2 linked regions of the Homo sapiens genome follow. The protein of the gene in region 1 purifies or fractionates together with the protein of each later gene. This does not show direct contact. Each region holds a gene or a part of one and is shown in the gene's direction. Other genes may lie near its edges.

The links.
Region 2: the proteins of DHX40 (region 1) and PPIL4 purify together in Homo sapiens (co-immunoprecipitation; 2 studies listed by BioGRID and IntAct, with this or other methods). This does not show direct contact.

The regions. Positions count from the first base shown.
Region 1 is NC_000017.11:59,560,662-59,568,679, forward strand, and holds the start of DHX40 (probable ATP-dependent RNA helicase DHX40), read left to right. Parts: upstream 1-4,948; 5' UTR 4,949-5,010; coding exon 5,011-5,122; intron 5,123-5,965; coding exon 5,966-6,133; intron 6,134-8,018. UniProt on the Homo sapiens protein: Probable ATP-dependent RNA helicase.
Region 2 is NC_000006.12:149,503,807-149,508,149, reverse strand, and holds the end of PPIL4 (peptidyl-prolyl cis-trans isomerase-like 4), read left to right. Parts: intron 1-2,445; coding exon 2,446-2,697; 3' UTR 2,698-3,655; downstream 3,656-4,343. UniProt on the Homo sapiens protein: PPIases accelerate the folding of proteins. It catalyzes the cis-trans isomerization of proline imidic peptide bonds in oligopeptides.

The DNA.
Region 1 (8,018 bases):
TTCTCTCTAGAATGAAGTTCCCCTCTCTCTCTTTCAAGGTCTACATGTATCCAGGACTACTAGATGAAAAACTGGTCATAGATGTTTGTTTCTGGTTTTTTAATGGAGAAGGGAATGGTCCACACTTGAGAATGGTTTATCTCCTTGAATTCCTTCCATTAGAATTTTCTTTCTTTCTTTTTTCTTTCTTTCCTTTTTTCTGAAACAGGGTCTCACTCTGTCACCCAGGCTGGTGTGCAGTGGCACCATCACAGCTCACACTGCAGTCTTGTCCTCCTGGGCTCAAGTGATCCCCCTGCCTCAGCCTCCCAAGTAGCTGGGAATACAGGCATGCACCTCCATGCCTGGCTAATTTTTGTATTTTTTGTAGAGATGAGTCTTGAGATGGGGTCTCACTATGTTGCGCAGGCTGGTCTCAAACTCCTGGTGTCAAGTAATCCTTCTGCCTTGGCCTCCCATCGTGTTGGGATTACAGGCATGAACCACCACATCTGGCCCCATTAGAACTTTCTAACAAAAGATGATCTTTCTCCTGCCCCCTAGAGGGCTGTTTATCCCTTCTGTCAGTCCTTCCTTTCTCATTATATCCTCTCCACTCTCTGCCCTCTGCCTAGGCCCAGCCTTATCCATCTGAGAGAGGAAGTAACCAGTAATTTGAGCATGCACAGAAGGCTCTGATTTGGGACCTCATGTCAGCAGTGTCTTTGGATTTTTGTTTCTGCTTTGTTGAGGGCTGAACAGGAAGATAGGCCCATGGGTTACCAGTGAGATAGAAAAAGGGGAGGAAAATACAGAGAAACAATCGGATTCACATTTTGGGATACAAATCCACCACAAATGCAAGTTTATAATACCTATGTGGGCTAAAAGTTTGTTCTCTCTCCTCCAGTCCTTTATCTTTCCTCAAAATGTGAACTTGGTATTTCTCCCTCATCAGTATCAGTTTCAACTCTCCTAAACAAATCTTCTAATTGTACCCCAATACTTTCATTGACCAAGTCTTCTCTTAATCACCACATACACACTGTAGTAGCGGCATCTTTTTCCAGCTATTCTTTTCTCTCCCTTTCATTTACCCTAGTTGATTCTAACCAGCCATCCCCAAGTGTATTAGGTACATTTTCAGTTTGCTCGCGAATTCTCATTTACTCACAATATGGCTTCTGTCTGCTTCCCTTTACCAAGACAAGTCTTGTTTTGGTCCAATTAATGAGCTTTTAAAAAATCCATGTAGCTTGATACCATTGCTCACTCCTTCTGTGAACAATTAGGTTCTGTTATTAATTAGGTTTGTACATATCACCATTTTTCTAGCATTTTAAACTTTCTGGTTCTGACTGTAATAATATCTTTGATAATTTTCCTTTTTTTTTTTTTTTGCTTTATTTACTCCTTTTAACCATCACAACAGTGGTCCTATACTTTTCTTTCTTTCCTGAAGATGATTTTAAAATTCCATTCCATTTTTGTAAATCTGTAATGTTGAGTCTCTTTTGGATGCTCTGAAACAGGTTGCTTGGATTGTGGAATATTTTGAAAGACTGCTTATGAGGCAATAGCAGCAGGGTGCAATTCAGACTTCTCACACTTCTTTAAATACCAGTTCTTTCAGGAGTTTTTTTTTTTTTTTGAGACAGAGTCTCACTCTGTTGTCCAGGCTGGAGTGCAGTGGTGAGATCTTGGCTCACTGCAACCACCACCTCCCGGGTTCAAGAGATTCTCCTCCATCAGCCTCCTAAGTAGCCGGGATTACAGGTGGCTACTACCACCCTAGGCTAATTTTTTGTATTTTTAGTAGAGATGGGGTTTCACCATGTTGGCCAGGCTGGTCTCAAACTCTCAACCTCAGGTGATCTGGCCACCTCAGTCTCCCAAAGTCCTGGGATTACAGGCCTGGTCTCAGGTTTTTAATGTAACCCAAAGATAAGAAATAGATTCAATGTCGTTAGGGACACTGACCTTTCTTCCCAGATTCAACCCATTTATTTTCTATTTTTACTCTGTACTTGAGTTTTGTTTGTCATTGTAATTTGTAAACTCACTGGGTAGGAAATAATTGTTGATCTTCTAATTTAGAATAGCCCCAAGCACATGGTTATCATGGTAACATGCTTTAAATGTCCTTGGTTATAAAATGAACAATGTTAAACATCACTTGAATTTTTCACTTTTATTTTTCTTCATTCTTTGCTTGCAGGTTTTATATTCTATACTCTCAATAGGTGGTTCTCATACAAGAATGGGGTCAGTTCTATTAGAGTTACAAACATTGGAAGAAAATACATTATTTTGGTACCAAAATCTAAATACTTCCATCTCCCAATGCAGTTTAGTGGTTATTAGTGTGACTTTGAATCTTGGCCCTCTTAGTTCTTTGTTTTGTCACCACAGGCAAGTTTCTAACACAAAAATTAGGGATAGTAATAACCTAACTGTATGAGTTTTTGTGAAAAATAGAGGAAATAATTTACAGTTGAAACCTGAACAAGGTGGGGTTAGGAGCACGAGCCTTTTGCACTGTAAAAATCTGCATATAACTCTTTTCTTTTTTTTTCTTGGAGACAGAGTCTCGCTGTCACCCAGGCTGGAGTGCAGTGGCGCGATCTTGGCTCACCCCAACTTCCGCCTCCCAGGTTCAAGTGGTTCTTCTGCCTCAGCCTCCCGAATAGCTAGGACTACAGGCACGCACCACCACACCCAGCTAATTTTTTTGTATTTTTAGGAGAGATGGGGTTTTGCCATGTTGCCCAGGCTGGTCTTGAACTCCTGAACTCAGGCAATCTGCCCACCTTGGCCTCCCAAAGTGCTAGGATTACAGGTGTGAGCCACTGCATTGGGCCAAAATCTGTATTACTTGACTCCCCAGAGCTTAACTGTTAATACCAACTATTGCCTGGAAGCCTTACCAATAACATAAACAGTTAATTAATACGTATTTTGTATATGTATTATATACTGTATTCTTAAAGCAAGCTAGAGAAAATAAAACATTAAGAAAATCATAAGAGAAAATATATTTACTATTCATTAAGTTTAAGTGGATCATCATAAAGGTTTCCATCCTGTTCAGTAGGCTGAAGAGAAGGAGGAGGAAGACAAAGGGTTGATCTTGCTATCTCCAGCTTAGCAGGTGCAGAAGAAAAAATCTGCCTACAAGTGGACCTGCGAAGTTCAAACCAGTATTGTTCAAGGGTCAACTGTATCAGAAAGATTTGACTACTATGAGCTAAGTGGTAATCATCATTGGTCTGAAATGATGATTTTTAGAAAGTGACTTTATTATATCACTGATAGAGATGCCCTATACTGAAATACTGAGATTACCAATACCTTGCCTGTACCACAAATGTATTTTTGCCATTTTGCTTTCTGTTTCTATAATATTTTGAATTCCTAACATGATCCAGAAGGCTGGGAGATGCTCCTAATGAAAGAGAGAAACCTGGAATGTTCTCCTATTTACCAGATTGCTTCCTCTCATACCCAGGTTTTGAGATATAAAGTTGTTACAAAGTTCCAACTTATTTGGTATCATTCAAAATCTGATGAGCTTGCATTTTAAGAAGTGTTGATCAGTTCCATTTAAAAGCAGTTGGTATGAGTTCACTTTATTTTTTGAGGTGGAATCTCGCTCTGTTGCCCAGGCTGGAGTGCAGTGGCATGATCTTGGCTCACTGCAACCCCTGCCTCCTAGGTTCAAGCGATTCTCCTGCCTCAGCCTCCCGAGTAGCTGGGATTATAGGCGCGTGCTACCACACCCGGCTAATTTTTTTTATTTTTTTATTTTTAATAGAGACGGGGTTTCACCATATTGGCCAGGCCGGTCTCGAACTCCTGATCTCAAGTGATTCATCTGTCCTGGCCCCCCAAGGTGCTGGCATTACAGGCATGAGCCACCATGCATGGCCATGACTTCACTTCAAATGAGCACAGAAAAATCTGGGGGCCCAACAACCTTATGGTACATCTTTTGAAGCCTGGTCAGACAAGAGGGTCTTTAGGTGATGGTGAAGTGACAGTTTTGAGTTGTCTTCTTTGGTAGTAAGTGTTGGCTAATTCTAACAGCAGGAACAATTGAGGAGTCCAACAAACAATCTTGTTCACATTGCAATGATTTTGTTACAGTTGACACTAATTTAAAAATTGGCAGGCTCTAGACCAGAAAGACCTGCCCCCAAAGTACCTTTTCTGAAAAAGTTGCCCTGCCTCAGATGCTGTGTATCTGTTGAACTTTTCAGCTACTGTGGTTTCCAAGGAATGCACCTCTATCAAAAATGAGCTTAATTCCTAAGGAAGTCAATTATTATTCCTCCATTCCAGCAAAGTCAACAAATATTGACAGCCCACCTTGAATCACTGTGCTGGGCCCTGGATGTAGCAGTGTTTTAATATTTCGACTCTTGTGGGGGGGGGCTTTACAATCTAGCTGGGCAGAAGAGGAAACATGCAAATAAATTAAAATGCAGGGTCCTATGAGGGAAATGAACAGCCTTGGTGACCTAAGTTTTGATAATAACATAACTAAAAGTTCGGCTCCACAACTCAGTAGCTGTGTGCCTTGGACAGGTCATATCAGATTAGGAAAGGTGAGAATGAGTTGAGGAACGCAGCACTCTGGGATCATGGTTCCAGCTCCGGGCAGAGGGTTACATCGTGTCAAGTGTGTGAAGGCAGAATAGCCTGCAGAGACCACTGTGGCGTTGAAAAGAGGTGTCGTCGCGACCTTCGGCGCCGGAGAGGCGAAACAAGAGGGGGTCTTCGGGCCCTCAGGTATGGCTCAGCCGCCCAAGGCGAAGCGCACGTGGCAGTTGGCGGGAAATCCCTGGGGGGTGGAGCCTCGGCTCGAGGTCCGGCCGCCCCGTACCACGTCATCGAGCAGCTCCCCCTCCCCTTGCTACAAGTCGCACGCGCGGAAGTAAACACCTCTACGTCATCAGGGCGCGTCCTCGTCTTTCCCCTCCCATCTCCTCAGATCGGTGGACGTGCTCGCCTCCACTCGGGGCCAGGTCTATGTCCCGGTTTCCCGCAGTCGCGGGCAGGGCGCCAAGGCGGCAGGAGGAGGGTGAGCGGTCAAGAGACCTCCAGGAAGAGCGGCTCTCGGCTGTTTGCATCGCCGATAGAGGTGCGGTCCGCGGGACGGTACGGAAGCCAGCGGGAGTTACGGCGTGGGGGTTTTGGTGGGGGGATGAAAGTACGCCTTTGGCAGGCTGAGAAGAGTAGTGAGGAAGCCGTGGCGTTCTCCTGGCTTTCCAAGCCCGAGGCGAACTTTGCGTCCAATGAGCACTTTGCCTTAGAGGGGGGCGGTCCCAGATTCAAGTTAGGCGAAAACCTTACTGGGGGGCGAAAAAGTGAACCCCAACGCCCGAAATGCATTCTGTTCTTAAACAGGCTCATAGACCCTTTGTTCTCTACCCATTCATCCCCCCCACCCTTCGTCGGGCCGCCAGCCTGCCTTTGGGTACAGTATGAAGGGAGCCAGTTTCCAGGAGCCAGTTTCCATGGTTACCCACCACTTGGCCTTCTGGGATATCAGTCGCTCTGAACAGGGACCTAACTTGAACCATGAATCAGAAGCAAACACAGGTGGCTTCTAATCCAGCTGAGAATTTTCTGCTGTGTTCCAGTTTTTGGTCTATTGTTAAATAAAATTGAGTTTTGTGCTTCTGTGTAAGTATGCATGTGTATACGTTGCCTTGAGCTATACTTGCTTTGAAAAGTACTTTGAGTTATGCGTGAACAAATGCTCAAGTTGCTGGATTTCACCAAAAAGTTGTTCTGGGCTCATTAACCCTCACTTACAAATTGCGCTCATTAACGCTCACTTACATGAGCGATTTAACTGAGAAGTCATGGATGATCCCGTCCAGCCCTAAAATTCTATTGCCTTTCTGGTTTTAGTCATGAGAAATTGAGTCAGAGATATCTTTACAAGTCTTTTAATTGACTTGTTTTTCTGTTATTACAGAAGAGAAAGGATGCACGTCCCAGGAGGGAGGAACTACTCCAACTTTTCCTATTCAGAAACAAAGAAAAAAGATTATTCAAGCTGTGAGGGACAATTCATTCCTTATTGTTACTGGAAATACAGGAAGTGGTAAAACAACTCAACTCCCAAAATATCTATATGAAGCAGGTGATTTTTTTCTGTTGTAATAATTGGAAATATTTTAAAAATATCCTCTTTTTAAAGGCCAGTAGGACTTCTGTACTCCATGATTGCCCAGTATTTGCTTTATAGTCCCGCTTCTCTTGGCACACCCCCTTCCCCTATGTCTCCTTTGCTTCTTTATGGTCTATTTCAGGTTCAAGAATTAGTTGGGATGGCAAATTTTCCCATTTTTAATTACCATAATAATCTCAAATAGAATTACATCTAGATATTCCATTTTATAGAATAAAGTTGTCTAGCAGTAGACTATTAACCATTGGATACTGAAATAATTTTGAGGGGTAAGAGATATGTGATATCTGTTGCTGCCATTAGTACTTCTTGGTTCTTTCTCTAGAGCATTATCAGGTAAATATTTATCCCCTGACTTTGCCAGCGCAAGCCAACTAACAAATTACCTTTAAAATACGTTAAGTAAAGTTAATAGGAGGCCTTTGGTTTGGACTGATCCCCCGCACTAGACCCAACAGACCAAACCAAAATGGAGTTACTCATACTGAAGTTCCACGCCACCAAGTCTAGAAACTAAATTTTTCATCTACTGAGAAATCAGGAGAAAGAGATAATAGCCAAATCCCCAAACAGACCAGTTTTAGGAGCATCAAGAAGTTTCCTCTGCTTTAACTTTGACAAGAAAAGTAACTTTGAAATGAGCAATCTGCTTTTTGTTTTCTGTTTCTGCTTTCCTCAGCCCTTTTCTGTCTATACAATCAGCCTCCTCTGCTCAGCTCATTGGAACACTGATTCTATTTTATGAGACGATGGGTTGATGTGATTCCAGAGTTAGAATCACAAAAGCCAATTAAAAAGTTTTGGCTGGGCACAGTGGCTCACGCCTGTAATCCCAGCACTTTGGGAGCCCGAGGTGGGCGGATCATGAGGTCAGGAGATCGGGACCATCATGGCTAACACAGTGAAACCCTGTCTCTACTAAAAATAGAAAAAAAAAAAATTCGCCGGGCGTGGTGGTGGGCGCTTGTAGTCCCAGCTACTCGGGAGGCTGAGGCAGGAGAATGGCATGAATCTGGGAGGCGGAGCTTGCAGTGAGCCGAGATCGTGCCACTGTACTCCAGCCTGGGAGACAGAGTGAGACTCCGTCTCCAAAAAAAAAAAAATTTTTTAGGCCGGGCGCAGTGGCTCAAGCCTGTAATCCCAGCACTTTGGGAGGCCAGGGCAGGTGGATCATGAGGTCAGCAGTTCGAGACCAGCCTGGCCAACATGGTGAAACCCGTCTATACTAAAAATACAAAAATTAGGCGTGGTGGCGGGCGCCTATAATCCCAGCTACTTGGGAGGCTGAGGCGGGAGAATCACTTGAACCCAGGAGGCAGAGGTTGCAGTGAGCTGAGACCGTGCTGTTGCACTCCAGTCTGGGCAACAGAGTGAGACTCTGTGTCAAAAAAAATAAATAAAAATAAAATAAATTTGTTGTAATTTTGTTTTTTGACAAGTGTCATTCAGTATGACAGAACTTTCTGTCATAAGGTTTGTAAAGAGCAGTATTATATTGGATATGATTTGCCTTAAAAAATAACAAATGTATTATTCTAATGCTTCAATCTAAGGTGCCATCTATTAAGATATATCACTATTTTATGTGCAGTAATCCCTTCTTATCCTTGGGAGATGCCTTCTAAGACCACTCAATGCCTGAAACTGCCAATAATACCAAACCCTGCATATACTATGTGTTTTCCTATACATACATACATACTTTTGATAAAGTTTAGTTTATAAATTAGGCATAGTAAGAAATTAACAACAACAACAATAAAATAGAGCAGTTATGACAATATACTGTAGTAAAACTTTTGTAAATGTGGTCTCTCTCTGTCTCTCAAAGTACTGT
Region 2 (4,343 bases), on another chromosome or scaffold:
CTGTGCAGATCTCTTGAGTCTCAGTTTCCCTATTTCTAGAATGAGGATATTGCACTCCTAAAGCTCTTAGCACTGTGTTAGCATGTACTTGGAGGATCTCCTCTTACATGGCTTCATTCAGCCACTTTAACTTTTCCCCTTCATACATACAGGGCTCATTTTTCCTTGCTTTTCAGTTTTCACTTACACTACTTTCATTAGCCTTCTTGCAGCCCATTCAGACCCAAGCTCACTTACCCTTTGAGGCTCATCTGAAATCCTAACTTCTCCATGAAACCTTCTCTAATTATTCTAACCTTAAGAGTACTTGTTTGACACATCTCCTAAATGTCAAAGACTATTTGAACCCAGATCTACCTGACTTCAAAGCTTGTGTAGCTTTGAAAACTACTCCCGAGTAGGAGTGATTTTAAAGTTTCAGTCCAATTCAAATATTCAGCTTCCTCAAATTTTTAAAAGAATGAAGTGCTACATAATCTTTTATCTCTTCTATTTTAAATACTCAAAGCACTTAAGTGCCCATTTGTATAATAACATACTGAGGATTTTATAAATTTATACATCAGCCAGCAGTCTCGGCATTTTAAAAGTTTGTCTCAACCAATACAGAAATAAGTACAAGATGTACAGATATAATAGTATATGAATATTTCTATTTTGTATATGTTATAGGAAGCACAAAAATTCTTTTATCTCAGAATGTCATATTTTACTAGAAAATTGATGGCAAAAGGCTAAACCAAAATGCCTACTCATTTTTTCTACCTCAGGGACTCTTATAATATGACAAGAACTATTGGGATTGTGTGGAAAATCACAAATCAGTTTATAATACTGTATTACACAGTGTGATTATTACTATAACAATCCTGTTACATCTGTTTTCACACACTGTCAAACTCAAGGTGTACAGTATCTAGACAGTATATGGAATAACTAATAATTTGCTTAAAACCCAGTCCTTAACCATGGGTATTCATCACTCTGAATTTTAAGCCTTGACATTTATGTCTGCTACAGTGGTATCTGGTGATAGAGTTGAGACCCTTGGGAGTTTAGTCCTTAGAATTTTCCTTTCCTTTGGGCAGTCTTAAGAAAGTTAAATTTTACAAAGTATCTCTTGAAAGAGCATTGGCTGTGGTCTAAGAGTAGAATTAAATGTAGCAATTTTATTATCTTTGGGGCAAAGGATTCTACCAGTGTTTAAAAACTCATTTTAAAGAAATATAATAATTTTGACATAAGCCTAATCAGCTGAGTGAGGTGGCTCATGCCTGTAATCCCAGTACTTTGGGAGGCCGAGGTGGGAGGGGATCACTTGAACCCAGGAGTTTGAGACCACCCTGGGCAACATGGGGAAACCCCGTCTCTACAAAAAAATACAAAAATTAGCCAGGTGTGATGGCACATGCCTGTGGTCTCAGCTACTTAGGAGACTGAGGTGGGAAGGATCGGTTGAGCCTGGGAGGTTGAAGCTACAGTGAGCCATGATCGTGCCACTGCATTCCTGCCTGGGAGACAGCAAGACCTTGTCTCAAAAAAAATTCTCCTCTCTAACTTCTGTCTTTCTAAACATGGAAGATGTATTTGAACATCTAGAGAGGAGCTGTTATAAAATAAAACACTTTAAAAATTAATTGCTCAGACCCAAGTATACATTATCCATTTTCTTTTTTCGAGATGGAGTTTCGCTCTTGTTGCCCAGGCTGGAGTGCAGTGGGGCAATCTTGGCTCACCGCAACCTCTGCCTCCCAGGTTCAAGCAATTCTCCTGCCTCAGCCTCCCGAGTAGCTGGGATTACAGGCATGCGTCCCCACACCTGGCTAATTTTGTATTTTTAGTAGAGTTTCTCCATGTTGGTCAGGCTGGTCTTGAACTCCTGACCTCAGGTGATCCATCCACCTCAACCTCCCAAAGTGCTGGGATTACAGACGTGAGCCACCGCATCCAGCCTCCATTTTCTTATTTAAGACTTACTGACTTGTCTAAGATCTCTTCCTGCTAAGTTATTTCAATGATATCTTCTTATAGGATTCTTATGGGAATTTTAGTAGTTTCATTGCAGATCAATAATGGGACCACGTTTTGGGGGAGTGAAGGGTGGGGAGCTGGGAATAAGACTATACATAATCAGAATTTTTGATTTTGCAGATTGCTCTAGAGACATGTTCTGATTTCAGTTGAGCTATTTCAGTTCCATATTTTTGAAGCTGATCCTTCGTTTCAGCCAAAATAGTAGATACAAATCAATGACGTTGTTAAACCTTTTTCTGAATTATTTTATTGCTTTGTAATTTACAAGATTCTTGACATTAGTGGTAGTGTTCACATTTAAGCTGTTATAACAGCCTTCTAATGGTAGACTTTTCTAAGTTTTATTAATTGAAAATGCCCACAAAATGATTATTTTACTGATTCACTTGTAATTCCCCCTTCCTTTGACAGGATATCTATAGAGAAATGGGGTTTGGTCACTATGAAGAAGAAGAAAGCTGTTGGGAGAAACAAAAGAGTGAAAAGAGAGACCGAACTCAGAACCGAAGTCGTAGCCGATCTCGAGAGAGGGATGGCCATTATAGTAATAGTCATAAATCAAAATACCAAACAGATCTTTATGAAAGAGAAAGGAGTAAAAAGAGAGACCGAAGCAGAAGTCCAAAGAAGTCCAAAGATAAAGAAAAATCTAAGTATAGATGAAAGATGAAGAGGCAGAATTGAGAGGCTAACATATTTACTCTTGTCTAACTTAAGAGTGCCAGGAAAGCAGATGCTTAGATTTTGTGTCAAAGCTTGTTATTTTTTTCATACTAGGATTATGGTCTTTAGATTAATACTGATTATATAGAGCACGGAAAGATAAAGAATTGAACATTTTCTTTGTATACTTTTTTACACTAATTTTATTGTTATACATAAATGGTAGTCTTCATTTTTGAAGTCTTACATTTTCACTCTTTTTTTAATGAAGTATTTCATACTACAAAAATACATAAACGTATATATAAAGGGATAATAAATGTAAATATCTGTGTACTCATCAGCCAGCTTAAGATACAGATGTTGTCGACATTTTAGAAGTTCCCTAAGGCCCTCTCCCTCTCAAATAATTATTTGGAATTTTGTGTTTGTCATTTGTCTATTATAGTTTTACAACATACGTATGTATCTGTAAGTGAAATGTTAATTTTGTATGTTTCTGAATTTTATATAAATGGCAAAATGTTTACTTCTGTGACTTTCTTTCATTTTTATTGCTATATAGTATTATATAAATATACTACAACTTATTCATTCTTGATGGACATTTGAGTTTTGTTTATTTGTTTTTGCTGTTGAAACAATGCTGCTGTGAACATTGTATCTAGCAGTTATATTGCTTGATATATTGATAAAATAATGCCAAATTTGTGTTCTGAAGTGACTGTACTAGTTTATACCTCTCTTGGCACTGTGAGTTACCTTTGTTTCATAGCATCTCCAACACTTAAGTTCAGACTTAAAAATTTGCCAACCTAGTGGATGTTAAGTGGTATCTACCTGTGATTTCCAGCAAGATTACTGTTATCTCTGCTCTTCCATGTGTAAGATGTCATTTTTTTCCTGGCTGCTTTTAAGGTTTTCTGTCACTGGTTGTAAGAAGTTTGATTATGATGTGCTTGCTGTAGTTTTTTTTTCACGTTTCTGCTGCTGCAGCTATTTTACCTGTGGGTTTATGGTTTTCATAGAATTTGGAAATTGGGGGGCATTTTTTCTTCTGTTATGGTTTTCTCTCTGCTCCTCTCATGCTTCTCCTGGGGCTCTGATGACTTGGATGTACGTTAGGCCCCTCAGAATTTTCTCCCAGTGTGCTGATTCTGTGCAGCTTTTTAAAAAGCCTTTTTCTCTCTGTGTTTCATGTTGGGTACTTTCCAGTGCTGTGTCCTCATTGTTTATTAATCTTTCTGTCTAAAGTATCTAATTTCCTTTTAATCGTATCCAGGTATTTTTCACCTCCGACATATTTTTAGTCTTTAGAATTTCTGTCTGGGTCTTTATCTCCCATGTGTCTCCTTCACATGCTCATGCCTTCCTCTATTTTTTTTTTTTTCAACATCTGGAGTGTATTGATAATAGCTCTTTCAGTGTGCTTGCCCATTCTGTCATCTGCATCATTTCTGGTCTGTTTCTATTGATTGATTCCCACCCTACCCCAACCCCCACCCTGCCCATATTGGATTGTAACTTCCTTCATTACATGCCTGGTAATTTCTGTTTTTAATATTGGGTGCTGGAGTTCTTTTAAGTATCTTGAACTCTGTTTGGGGACATAAAGTTACTTGGAAACAATCCGATCATTTTATAGC